2 linked regions of the Homo sapiens genome follow. The protein of the gene in region 1 purifies or fractionates together with the protein of each later gene. This does not show direct contact. Each region holds a gene or a part of one and is shown on either strand. Other genes may lie near its edges.

Region 1 (7,331 bases):
CCAAAAACAATGAAATATAAACACTTCAAAATACGCAGTTAGGGCTGGGCATAGAGACTCATGCCTGTAATCCCAGCTACTCGGGAGGCTGAGGCAGGAGAATCGCTTGAACCTGGGAGGTGGAGGTTGCAGTAAGCCAAGATCGTACCACTGCACTCCAGTCTGGGTGACAGAGTGAGACACCATCTTAAAAAAAATGCAGTTGGTTTAACTTGGCAAAACACCACTAGATCAAACTACACGAGAAAAAAAGACTGGACCTAATAAAAGAATAAAACAGCAAACAGGCTGTCAAGCTATTCCAAAAGACAAGGGTTACTAGGTTACCCAGTAAACCAATCTCACAAGGCCAGTGTCAGAGTAGATTTGATCTAAATCAAATATAAGTCACTGGTCAGGAGACTGATTACATATTCATGGATACAGTATATATTCTTCAGAGAAATTCTACCTGCTGTTTTCACTCCCACTAGAATGTAAGCTCGATGAGGGAAGAACATTTTTCTATTACTTCCCCACAGTCTATGCAATAAGTAATAATTACTCACTAAACAATTGAAAAGAATAAAATTATCCAACTATGACTTAAAATTTTGCACTTCCGTGAAGACAGTATGCATAGAATCACACATCTATCATCAGGATTTTTATCCCTCATCTAGAAATAAAGCTGCCCACGATCAATCGTTCTCTAAATTAAAGCCGGTTTCAGAACTAAAAGGAAGCTTTTACTGAACACACAATGGGATACTTTAGATTCAGATACAGTCATTTTTCCACTAGACAAACTAGTTTTGTTCTACATAATCCCTATTTCTTGATAATATCTGAGCTTCCTCTTCCAAAGCAGTAAAATACTCCTTTTGTAAATAAAGGATCTACTAAATATATTCCTTCACAGCCAACGGCCTGACAAACCTAGGTCATGTTTGCAGTAAACATTTAACAAGCACACAAGAGTAAAACCTCTTTAATCTACACAGAACAGATTAAAACCACCATGCAGGGAATCAACCCCAACATAATCACAGTCATTCACTACATAACATTTCAGTAAATGAAAGACTACATATACAACGGGGGTCCCATAAAATTGTAATATCGTATTTGTACTCTACTTTCCTATGTTTAGATATACAAAAACTTACCATTGTGTTACAACCACCTATAGCATTCAGTACAGTAACATGTTATACAGGTTTATAGCCTAGGAGCAATAGGCTGTACCATACAAACTAGGCGTGTAGTGCCATCCAGTTTTAAGTATACTCTATGATGTTTGCATAATGACAAAATCACCTAAGGATGCTTTTCTCAGAAAGTATCAACTGTAAATGTAATTCGACTGAGATGTGACTGAATATTCAATGTAGTATATACAGCATATATATTAATATATACATTATATATACTAATATATAATGTCTACATAGTGTATATATGCAATGTAAACACCAGAAAAACAAGAGAAGAAAATAAAGTTCACACGAGTACTTTGAAGATGATTCAGTAAAAGGACCTTAGTAATACTAAAAATATTTATACCTAGATAATGCCAGACTATTAGATTTCAGAACTTATAAAATAGGTAATTTAAAACATTACCTATAAATTTTTAAAATTCAAATTAAAACTTCATGAAATTCAAAAACTCACACTTCAGGAAGATAGTGGTATTTCTGAAGAGGATCTTTCCAAAACTAAAATAATTTTTCCCCTGCAAACATAAAGGAAAGATAATTAGCCTCAGATGGCTTCAATTACCAAAGCATCATATAACTATCTAAGACTGCTAGAAATTCCAACTTAACTTAAATCTTTATGGGACGTACCCCTTAATCAGTTCATTCCCTTTACTCACCAATCACTGCTCAGAATAACCAATCATTTTTTCTAATGAACTATTCTGTGTGCAAATAACCAGAGTTTTATTTTCAAATCTAAAAAGACTTAACTATTAACCATTTTAGTAACAAGTAAAAACCTAACTGAACACCTGAAAATCTTCACCACTGAACAAAAGGTATAACGTTTACCATAATAAAAGCCCAAATAAGATTTGGACATTACAGTCAGTGAGCAGAGCAGAATGAAACAAAAAGGCCAACGTAGGTTTAATGGGGCTAATGCTTTTCAGCATTTCCTCCCTGCATCTGGTTTTTGTCTGCTCACAGGACTATACCTGTTACTGAAATAAGGTTTAAAATGGGTAAGGGGCAGAAAGGGTCAACCCATGTAGTTAATTATCCAAATGAAAGACTAGCCTTACCACATTAAATTTTAAGTACTATTTCTTCAATTTTAACCATTCCCATGTTAAAACACATTTCTTAAATCTCTATGCTTTCTAGTCACACAGTAAAGCTTAGAATAGCCATTCCAAAGTTGAAGCGAAGTCGAACCATCTCGTAAGCAGAATTACCCAGGGACCAAGAAGTGCAGAGGAAGAAAAAGAAAGAAAGAAATGAAGACTCCTATTTACATATCTTTCTTATCCAACCCGGGGACACTGGATTCTGTGAAACATCTGAAAGATAAACAACTCTCCGTTTGTACATCAAGTTTACATCTCAAGTCAGGCACTGAAAGTTCTGTTTTTCTGATGAGAAGCCGCTCCACCACTCCTTTCTGTTGCTGAAGTGGCCCTTACATTCCCGCTAGCCTAATCACAGAAGTGCGCGGCTTTCCACTCCAGGGAGGTGGGTCCCAGTTGGCTAGCCACACAGACCATCCCAGCAACCCCACCCCTTTTGAAGAGACTTTTGCGGAACCTTCATGGACCCCTTGGGCCGCCGTAGCCCCACCCCTTGCTCCTCTAGGTTCAGACGTTAGTGAAGTGAATACTCACCGACGGTATCGGAATGTGCCATTTGGACCGGTCGGCAGCAGCTACGGTTGCCGGTCCCGCACTGAAAAACGACAGTGGTGACGGGTGAGCTCCCAGAAGCAGAAGAATGACAGGCAACACCTGAAGCCACGCAGCCGCCGCCATCTTCACAGCCGTGGAGTGCCTACCGAAAGCATTTCACCCTCTTCCGGTTCGTCCCGCCTTCTTCCGGCTCTGCTCTAAGGGCGGGATTATCCGGGTCCTGGAAACGTCGCGGAGCTTGTTTGCTGTGCGGCGTAGCGGCCCCTCTCTCAGACAGTCGTCTGTGCGCCGTGAGACTTTGGACCTACTGCGCAGGCGTCATCCTGTTGGAACCTGGTCAGCTGGGTTAGAGAGATCGCTACATGCCAGCCTGGCCTGAGTCTTTTCTGTCTCCCAGCCGTTAAAGGTTTTAGGACCAGGCAGGCACCCCGTGCAGGATTTGGCTCTCTACTTCCGCTCGCCCCAGCCCTTCATCCCTTCTAAGTCAATGTCAGACTTTGGGGCCAGAAAGTCTGGAAAAGCCCTAAGCCTGGCTGCCCAAGTGGCGTCTAGTAGTGAGTTCTCCGGTTTGGGTGGTATTTAAGCAAAGGCTGGAATTCGGCGGTGGTGGAGTACACGCGATTCCTAGACTGGGTAGTGTAACAACCTTCAAAGGCCCCTTCTAGCCCTGAAGAGTACGATGCTGCAGTACAATCTGGCTGGAGACCTAGCCTCCAGCAAAGACCCGGCCGGCACTTCCCACCCTTAACCGAAAACGGAGACAGAGAGGGTCAGTTTTCAAAATCTGTGGCGTGACCCCGCCACTGAGATAGATCTGCAGATGCTTCGTCCCAGTCAGGGAGGCCGTCTCGGCATTTCCAGGTTCTTAACGCTCTTGATTTTTACCCTCTAGGACTCATTGCGTACACGCCCTCACCGCCGCCCAGTTTCGGTTCCTAACAAAAGCACGTTCCTCATCAGCCACCCATAATCAAGACAAATTTGCCAAATAAATCATTGTAGAAACGCTAGTTTGGGCCTGAAAAATTCCAGGAGCAAGAGTCAAGATTTGTCACTCCATGAGAATCTGGAGGGGACTCCCTTCCCAGAAACTTGACGATGAAGTACTGGTTGTAATTTTAGAAAGACACCCAATCGGCTTTTTTAAAAGATCGCCCAGGGCCCTTGTCCTGAGAGCTGGGAGCTGGTCGGAGTGACAGAGAAGCCATGGAAGCAGCAGTGAAAGAGGAAATAAGGTAAAGGCCAAGTGCTTCTGTAGCGAGTGACCCCAGGGTCCCTAGAAACAGGGAATAGTGTTTTAATTGCATTTCTTATTTGCGTATTTGGTATTTGCTGACCTTTATCTTTTCTCTCAATTCGCGGGAAGTTAGTTGATATTAATAGCCTCTCATAAAATACTTTCAGGATGGTTAAATAGGCCGGGTGCAGTGGCTCACGCAGGTAATCCCACAGCACTTTGGGAGGCTAAGGTGGGAGGATCGCTTGAGTTCAGGAGTTCGAGACCCCCTCCCCGCCCCCTCGGAGTCCCAGCTACTTGGGAGACCACTGGGAGGATGGATTTGGAGGCTGCAGTGGAGCTGTGATCTTGCCACTGCTTGGGCAACAAAGTGAGACCCTGTCTCCAAAAAAAAAGGATGGTTAAATAACATTAACAGTGGAAAAGTTGCAATCAGAACTCTTAACACGTGAATTTCAGGCATGTTGCTTTCCAAATTCATCTATAATCACCCCTTCCTATATCATCCCAGAGTTAATTCTTCGAAGCTGTAAAGAGGAAACAAAAGATTCTCCAATCTTTGTACACTTGATTAAAATAAACTGGGCCGGTTCGCTCATGCCTGTAATCCCAGCACTTTGGGAGGCCTATAGGTGGGCAGATTGCTTGAACCCAGGAGTTCAGACCAGCCTGGGCAACATGCTGAATCCCTGTCTCTACAAAAATTTTAAAGTTAGCCAGACGTGGTGATGTGGGCCTGTAGTCCCAGCTACTCAGGAGGCTGAGGCAGGAAGATAGCCTGAGCCCAGGAGGCGGCAGTTGCAGCAAGCCAAGATCGTGCCACTTCACTCCAACGTAGGAGGCAGAGCGAGATCCTGTCTCAAAAAAAATTTTTTTAATAAATTAAAATAAACGGACAAAGACTGAGTTCAGTGAAGGACAAACAGTTTTTTAGTATGGCCAAGTATATCTGCCTGGGCTTGTTTTCATAATATTTCGACGTTTGTGTTCAGTCATAGCTTTCTACATAATCATGGACATGCTGACTACAGATGCATTCGGCCACACTAGTGCATGAAAGCCGGTGTAATTTTTTTTTCTCCTTATAATCTGTAGTTGTTTTAATCAGATGGAGGCTAGTTTAAATACATATACTCAAACTTCAATATACATATATCTCATTCATGTTTTATCCCAGAAACAGCTCTTCTGGAAACTTGGTTTTAAAAAACATGGCCCCTAGTTTGTCACCTCATCTTAAAAAGCAAGAAATTCCCCTTCTACGTCTGTTCTGTTCTTATTCTAGCACCTTGCACCTCTATTAAAGCATTTGTCAGCTTGTATTGTGATTGCTGGTAAAACCCTAACTGATAGCTTGAACACAGTTCATATCTTCCTCAGAGCCCAGCTCTCAGGAAGAATATTCTGAAAATATTTTCTTGAATAAATCGGTGGGTGGGTTATGGTTCTTAGTTTGTCTGGTTGGTTGGTTTTGGTTTGTTCGTTTTGGGATGCTGTTTTGGTTTTCCTCCTTCAGATTTTACTTTTGTGGTCATAGCCTTCAGTCATTATTTCAAAAGAATATGTCCTCATAAGTGACAGTGATCTTTTCCCATTACTTTTGGAGTAATCCCAGAACCTGATGTTTTGTTGTTTACCTCAGAGGGTTTACAAAAGGCTATTGTTCTGCAACATAATGTGCTATTATGTTATACTGTGGCCGTGACACAATTTTGCATTGCAGAATAGACTCCAAAGGTTTATTTTGCATGTTCATACTGTCGTTAGAGAAGGTACAAAAGTTGGATTCACAAGCCCTGTGTGAAATAAATTTCTCAAAATGTCTTTTTATTTAGTCTTGAAGATGAAGCTGTAGATAAAAACATTTTCAGAGACTGTAACAAGATCGCATTTTACAGGTAAGGAAAATAAATATAGTAGCTAGATCAAAACATCTCTGACAGTATTTCAAAATTGATGCTTATTAAATTTTTGGAACTGATAGACTTTCCAAGGAAAGGATAATTTAATAATTAAGGAAATCATCAGACAGGAGACTCACTTTTAACTTTATACATTTACTCCTGAAGTATTTAAATTTTTCAATAAACAGCTATTTTATTTTAAAAGCCAAAATATTTTTAAACTAGTTTTAAATTTTGACGCTTTGAATAGATAACACTTTTACATGGTTCAAAAATAATATAAAGAGCTATACATTGAAAAATGTTGCTTCCACTCCTGTCCCCTTCTACCCATTCCTCATCTTGTCCCGAATAACCGAATTTCTTCATTTCTTATTTATCCTTCCAGTATTTTTTTGTAAATACATGTATTTTTATATTATTGCTTTTCTCTTTTTTTAATCACCCCTTTTTATACCAAATAGGTTTTTTTTCCTGCTTTATAGTTTGTTCTGAGGAGAAATTCATATGAGTGCATGGAGATTGTTTCTCCTTTTTACAGCTGCATAATATTCCATGGGGTAGATATACTATTAATATAATTTATTCAGTCTGTCTCTTATTGCTAGACCCTTGGGTTGTTTTTAATCTTTTGCTAAAATAGCACTACCACAATGAAGAGCTATACATAGGTCATTTTCTACACATGCAGGTGTATTTATAGGATACCTTTCTAGGAGTGAGATTACTGGGTCAAAGAGTAAATGCATTTGAAATGTGTTAACTATTACCAGATTTCCCTCCATAGGAATTATACCATTTGTACTCCTATCAACATTATATAAGATTGCCTGGCTGGGCGAGGTGGCTCACACCTGTAATCCCAGCACTTCGGGAGGCCAAGGCAGGCGGATCACCTGAGGTTGGGAGTTTGAGACCAGCCTGACCAACATGCAGAAACCCCGTCTCTACTAAAAATACAAAATTAGCCAGGCATGGTGGCGCATGCCTGTAATCCCAGCTACTTGGGAGGCTGAGGCAGGAGAATTGCTTGAACCTGGGAGGCAGAGATTGTGGTGAGCCGAGATTGTGCCATTGCACTCCAGCCTGGGCAACAAGAGTGAAACTCCGTCTAAAAAAAAAAAAAGATTGCCTGTTTCTCCAGAGCTACAAAAAATATGCCTTTAAAATCTTCATTTTATTTTATTTTTATGCATTTTTTTGAGACGGAGTCTCCCTCTGTCACCCAGGCTGGAGTGCAGTGGCGCAATCACTGCCCACCACAACCTCCACCTCCTGGGTTCAAGCGATTCTTCTGCCTCAGCCTCCCGACTAGCTGGGA
Region 2 (7,027 bases), on another chromosome or scaffold:
GAGAGGTCAAGGGAGAAATTTATTTAAAGAGCAAATCTATTGAATAAATCTTTGTATGAAACTGAGCATTCCCTTTAGAAAATATAGTACTAATATGTTTTTAAAATGATGCTAAATAACTTCTCTTGATTTTTCTTTGTTTCTCTTTGTTAATGGTAGAATTCTGGTACAGCTCAAGTTTTCAGTTTAGTAGCAGAACGTAGAAAGAAATTTCAGGAAATCATCAATCGCAGTAGCAGTGAAGCAAATCAGGTGGTTCGTCCCAAAACTTCAAGTAAATGGTCTGCTCCTGGTTCAGCTCCACAGTTAACTACAGCCATTTTGGAAATTAAAGAAAGCATATTGTCTTTGCTAATTAAACTTCACCACAAACTCTCAGGAAAACAAAACTCCTACTATCCTCCTTGGCTTGATGACATAGAAATTTTAATCCAACCAGAAATTCCTAAATACAGTCATGGAGATGGTATAACTGCCGTGGAAAGAATTTTACTAAAAGCTGCATCGCAAAGTAGAATGAACAAACGCATCATTGAAGAGATATGTAGAAAAGTGACCCCTCCTGTACCACCTAAAAAAGTCACTGCAGCAGAGAAGAAAACATTGGACAAAGAAGAAAGGTAATTTTTATTTTTAATGTTTTAAACGTGTGTATAGTTGAAAATTTGATATTTTCTTCCTTTTGGTCATTTGAGGATAATCACCTGGATGTTTAACAGGAACAGTCATAGCTGATTAGTTTGTAACATAAATGGAATGGAGCATAGTCAGTGCTTGTACATGTGATGTATTGAGTTTATTGATGGACAGGTGAGACTTTCTGACCCCAATGTAAAATTACTACCTTAAACCTGTGTGTCTCTTTGGAAAAATTGCTACTGCTTTTATTGCTGTAGGGATCTAATAATTCTCTTACTGTTAAAGTTGAACTGTTCAGCTTTAAATGAGAATATTAAAAATATTTAAAATATTTCTCAAAATAAAAATCCAACTGCTTTAGTTTCTTTTGGTCTTTTCTAATCTTTATTAATATATGATTGCTGATTTTTAAAAAGTGATGTTTTAAAACACATTCTGACTAACTTATGCTTCTAGCTTTTGGATCTTTAGGTTGCTTATAATTTGTTGTTAAATTATATTTATAAACTTTTTTTTCATCTTTTGACTTTCTTGAAAAAAAAATGGGATTTTTTTAAAATCTCAAGATATATACTATGTTATGTGGGGTTTGTGGGTCAAGGACTATGAGCATGGTTTGGTTCTTTTTTTTAGTGGTACATTGTTTGCCAGAAGAGTTGTGTTACTGTGCATTGTCACAAATTGTTTCCCAAGAGCCTTGTCAACATTGCTGACCCTGCTGTCATAAACATGACAAGGTGAATCTTGAGAGATTGAAACTCTGCATAATTGTCAAACTCTTGGAAAGGGTTCAGTGTTTATTAAAGAAAAAAAAAAAGAGCATGCCTTCTAATGAGTGTACACAGGCTAAAAGACCCAGGACATTTAAAAAAAAGATTTCAGATCAAATTCAAGATAGTCATTGCTCACTTCTCTGAGGTTATAAATAATATTCATTGTTTTAATTTCTTTATTATTTAAGACAAATTTGTCTACCAAAGCAACAATTATAGGGGAAGGGTACACATTTCCCGTTAGGGAGGGTCCAAAGAGATCACATCAATATTATCTTAATTTAAGAACCTAGGACCTTTATCATCTCAATCTGTTTTATATAGGTAAAAATCATTGTCAACAGAGTTATCTGGACTACTGTTGTGAGCAGTATGACTAATACATTATTTAGCAGTTTGAAGTGTACTTTAGAGGTATTTTCTGGATAATTTCATCTTCTTAGTTACTTTTAAAATTAAATATAGGCAGTTATGGGTTAAATGATCAGTGGAAGCAAGCCTAAGATGGATCTTACTTGATTGATCCGTTTCTCATTCATTGGGTGTCAGTCAAGCAGTTTTCTAGACATATCTGTGTCTGGTGTTGGACTTCCTGACCTCGAGGAATTGATACTATAATGGAGAGACAGACTGGTAAACAGATAGTTTGTTAGTAGTGTTAACATAGTGTAACAGATACTATCTTAGGTACACAGGGTGTTAATGGGAGTAGTAGGACATAAGGCTAAGAAGGTAACCATGTATCGTTAACTCGCACAGGGTATAAATGGTTACAGGGAAACTGTGGAAGGATTTTAAGTGAGGAATAATATATAGGGTAATTACATGAGGGTAGATTAGAGTGGGGTAAGACTGGAAATTGGGAGAGCAAGCTACTTAGTCATCTAGTGGGGCAGGTGTGGTAAGGGTCTGAACTAAGACAGTGATGATAATAAAGAGAGGAGGAGATGTGTATGAGATATTTAGCAGGTACAAGTTGTTAGACTCAGTCATCAGGTTGATGTGAGAAATGAGGGAGATGTCTTGAATGGTGCCCTGATTTCTGACTTGAATAATGTTCCTTTTACCAAGATAATGGAGTGTAGGAGGGGTCCCAGGCTCATTAGTAAAAGTGATCTGTTCAGTTCTGGACGCTACTAAGTTTAAGAGGGACACCCAGGTGAAGGTGTCCAGTCAGATATAGGGTTTAAAACTTAAGGGAGAATTCTTAGAGCTACAGATTTGAGCAGCTAGGTAGTAGTAAATCCTTGTATATGGGAGAAGGTTTACAGTAAGAAAATGAGAAGACTGAATGTAGAACTTAAGGGAAAAACATTAAAGGGAATGACTGAGGAAGGGGTACCTACAAAGGTGACTGACGAAGGGATGGCTGAGCAGAGTAAGAGAAAAACTGGGGTGAGTGGCATTAGAGAAGTCACAAGAGGAAGTTCAGAAAGCAAGAAACTTATCAAAATTGTTAAGTGCTACAGGAGTTCAATAAGATTGGCCATCCTATTTGATTTGTTAGTTAGGAGGTCATCCGTTGGTACCTGTATAAGGAGCAATTTTAGTCACATATATAGTTACACTACATCTCTGATGTAATTAAAAGTTTGTTGGGAGGCCGAGGTGAGTGGATCACAAGGTCAGGAGATCAAGACCATCCTGGCCAACATGGTGAAACCTCGTCTCTACTAAAAACATAAAAATTAGCTGGGCGTGGTGGCGTGTGCCTGTAGTCCCAGCTACTAGGGAGGCTGAGGCAGGAGAATTGCTTGAACCTGGGAGACAGAGGTTGCAGTGAGCTGAGATCGCGCTGCTGCACTCCAGCCTGGCGACAGAATGAGACTCCATCTCAAAAAAAAAAGTTTGTTATAAAAAATTTATATTAATATATGCAAAAGCTTATGGTAGATTAAGAATTTAGGAGAATTCCTAAATTGGAGTTATAAAGAACTAACACAAAATTTGTTTCCGTGGGAGAAAGGACATTCAGTAACATATAATTCAGATGACCATTCATTAAGTTTGAATTAGTAATAGCCTAGAATGTAATAAATCTACTGACAAAATTAGAAGGTTGAAAATGAGGTAAGATTGTTATTTTTGTTAATTAGTGGTCTCTCTTAGTGGTCAGATCCTTCTTTCTGTTATATAATAGTATATCCTTTTATTTTGAAAGAAGATAAACAGTGAATCAAAATCTGTTTTTCTTGATTAAGGGAATTTTGTAATTATTACTAATAATGTGATACTGGAGGACATAGTTTAGATGCTGCTTTTACAAAGGCCCTGATGCTATTGTAATAAATAATATTCTAAAAATTTTAAAGGCTTTCTTTGTGATAGGTTTTGTTTTCTTTGAACAATGATGGTATTGACAAGGACTTGAAACTAATTTTGTAGCAGACAGCTAAGGATTAAGATGACTCTATTTGGATCTCACCGTGCTTCTCACATTTGTCTTTCCTCTGGTTTCGTTTTGGATTTTCATAATAAAGGCAGAACAGTTCATAAACACTTAATGAGGATCCATTTCCAAGTACTTCACCTTTAGACAAACTCAGCATCACTTTCATAATAGATTAACTTAATAGAAAACAAGATGCAAGCAGAAAACATTAGATGGTTGTAATAAAATGCAGCTTCAATGTCTTTAACCCAGGAGTTAATGGAAAATTTTTGAGTTGTCCTGAATCTGCCAGAACTTGTATATGTTCTTGTTAATGGCCTTTATTTACATTTATGCCCATTTAGAAAAGCAATAATCTCGATTAAGAAAACATTCACAACAATGACATCCCATTTCTGGTTAGTATAGAAACCTGCTATAGAAATGCATTTTAGTATTAGTGTCAAGCAGTTACATTTGAGGTTTTCTTATGTTTAATAGATTTTTAAAAAGTACACTCTATGGACATATGTATTCTAATTGTAAGTGTACATGTTTAAAGGTGAGCTGTAGAGTGAGTGGCATTAATTAAAGAAGTATGGCAAAACTTACAGATTTACGAACTAGTGATTCAGAAGACCAAAAATGTAGTCTGTCAATGCTGTTGTTGCTCATAGCATTTTTGGAGGTCACTTAGAGTGCTTTGAGCATCTAGAGCACATTTTTCTTTGCTTCCATTTCTTCCATTGTGGCAAATATTTGTCCTTTGAGGATGGATTTAATTTTAAAAAGCTTTTTATTTTGAAGTAATCTTAAACTTACATAAATGGTTCAGGAAGTTCTTTGTACCCTCAACTATCAGAATTAGCAGATTGATAGTGGTATTTGAGTATGATTTAGATCCCAAGTTTTGATAGTTGTCCCAATAATGTTTGATTTGTCTTGTCTTGTCTTGTCTTGTCTTGTCTTGTCTTGTCTTGTCTTGTCTTGTCTTGTCTTCTCTTCTTAATTCATTTCTTTTCTTTTCTTTGAGACAGGGTCTTGCTCTGTCACTCAGGCTGGAGTATAGTGGTATGATCACGGCTCACTGCAGCCTTGACCTCCTAGGCTCAAGTGATTCTCCCGCCTCAGCCTCCTGAACAGCTGGGACTACAGGTGTGTGCCACCATGCCTGGCTAATTTTTAAAAATTATTTGTAGAGATGAGGTCTTGCTATGTTGCCCAGGCTGGTCTCAAACTCCTGGGCTCAAGTGATCCCCCCGCCTCAGCCCCACAAAGTGGTGTGATAACAGGCATGAGCCGCTGCTCCTAGCCCCCAATAATATTTCTTTTGTTACTTACCTTTTTTTTTTTTTTTTCGTTTTTGAGACAGAGTCTCTTTCTGTCACCCAGGCTGGAGAGCAGTGGCGCGATCTCAGCTCACTGCAACCTCTGCCTCCTAGGTTCAAACAGTTCTCTGCCTCAGCCTCCCGAGTAGCTGGGATTACAGGTGCTTGCCACCATGCCCGGCTAATTTTTGTATTTTTAGTAGAGACAGGGTTTCACCATGTTGGCCAGGCTGGTCTTGAACTCCTGACCTTGTGATCCACCCGTCTCGGCATCCCAAAGTGCTGGGATTACAGGCGTGAGGCACTGTGCCCAGCCAGTAATATTTCTTATAGCAGAAAGATCCAGTTCATAATCACTCCTTGCATTTAGTTGTCATGCCTCTTTGTTCTCCTTCAATATGGAAGTTTTTGTTTTCATAACCTTGGCACTTTTAAAGATTATGAAGCAGTAGTAACATTGTAGAATATCCCTTAATTTGGGATTGTCTGTTTTCCCTTTATGTTTTGACTCAGTTTATACAACTTTGGCAGGAATGTAAATGAAGTGTTGCTGTTTTCTTTTCATTGTATCCCACAAGCTGTTATATGATTTCAATTTGTTTCATCACTGGTGATTAACTTTGATCATGTCTGCCAGACTTCTTCACAGTCAAATTACCTTTCCCACCCCACTTTACAATTAATACGTAATTTGTGGAGAGATACTATGAGATATTGTAATATCCCAATTCATATCAACTTTATATTCATTTATTTTTATCAGTGTGGACTCATGGGTTCCTATTTTATTTTATGGGTTATAATCTCATATGCTTGTTATTAATTTTGGTGCTCAAATTATTACAGATTTGGCCACTAGGAGTCATGTCAAGCTGGTTTCCGGGTCCTTTTGATCTATTCCCATCATTCTTTGAGCATATTCCTATTTTCTGGGGCAATAAGATGTTCCAGGCTTGGCCAGGTGTCGTGACTCACACCTGTAATCCCAGCACTTTGGGAGGCTGAGGCGGGCAGATCACCTGAGGTCAGGAGTTCGAGATCAGCCTGGCCAATGTGGAGAAACCCTGTCTCTACTAAAAATACAAAAATTAGTTGGGCATGGTGGTGCGTGCCTGTAATCCCGGCTACTCAAGAGGCTGAAGCATGAGAATTGCTTGAACCTGGGAGGCAGAGGTTGCAGTGACCTTAGATCGTGCCACTGCACTCCAGCTTGGGCCATAGAGTGAGACTCCATCTCAAAAAAAAAAAAAAAAAAGATGTTGCAGGCTTATCCTGTACTTGGAGTCAGCCATTTCTCCAAGGAGTCCTGGTTGCTTTTAGGAGAGAATGGTATTTAGAAACCCCAGTCCATGTGTTTATTCTAATGAAGTATAGCTGTCTCAGGCCCTCTTAGGACAGAGCTGGGGAAAATTGTGTGTGTGTTTCTTTGTTTGTCTGTGTTTGTGTTGGAAGGTAGTGTGAGAGAGGAAGGGAGAAATTTATATTTAGTTTTATGTCTGACTTTATGTACTGAAAACTGTGAGTTCACTCTGATACTTTCAATTCCAATCCATCCCTCTAGGAGTCATTCTTGTTTTCTCTCTTTCTCAGTTTCCAGAGTAACTCTGTAACTCTCTACTTCTGCAGTGAGATACCTGACACCTATAACTCTCTCTCTCTCTCTCTCTCTATCTGTGTATCTATCTATCTGGATAGATATATTTAACTTTTTTAGTTAAAAATTACATATATTTAACTAAAATGTTATATATATATATATAACTTTTTTAAAAATCAACTCCCTTATATATAACCACTTTCTTCTAATCTTTTACCATACAAATGCCCTCCCGTGCCAGGTTGTCGAGTCCTGACACTCTGTGCTAGGACATGTTCAGAAAGGGAAGAGAGGGGATGGGTAGATTTAATTTTTTGAA

What was found. The genes of interacting proteins can lie anywhere in the genome.
Region 2: the proteins of TMEM87A (region 1) and UBR3 purify together in Homo sapiens (co-immunoprecipitation; 2 studies listed by BioGRID and IntAct, with this or other methods). This does not show direct contact.

What each region holds. Positions count from the first base shown.
Region 1 is NC_000015.10:42,270,407-42,277,737, forward strand, and holds the start of TMEM87A (transmembrane protein 87A isoform 1 precursor), read right to left. Parts: upstream 3,028-7,331; 5' UTR 2,993-3,027; coding exon 2,849-2,992; exon of another isoform or gene 2,795-2,848; intron 2,660-2,794; exon of another isoform or gene 2,483-2,659; intron 1,718-2,482; coding exon 1,657-1,717; intron 1-1,656. Other genes in the region: GANC (neutral alpha-glucosidase C), read left to right, coding at 4,076-4,104, 5,942-6,004. UniProt on the Homo sapiens protein: Potential monoatomic ion channel gated by mechanical force, implicated in normal touch sensitivity through the generation of mechanically activated currents.
Region 2 is NC_000002.12:169,949,446-169,956,472, forward strand, and holds part of UBR3 (E3 ubiquitin-protein ligase UBR3), read left to right. Parts: intron 1-159; coding exon 160-620; intron 621-7,027. UniProt on the Homo sapiens protein: E3 ubiquitin-protein ligase which is a component of the N-end rule pathway. Does not bind to proteins bearing specific N-terminal residues that are destabilizing according to the N-end rule, leading to their ubiquitination and subsequent degradation.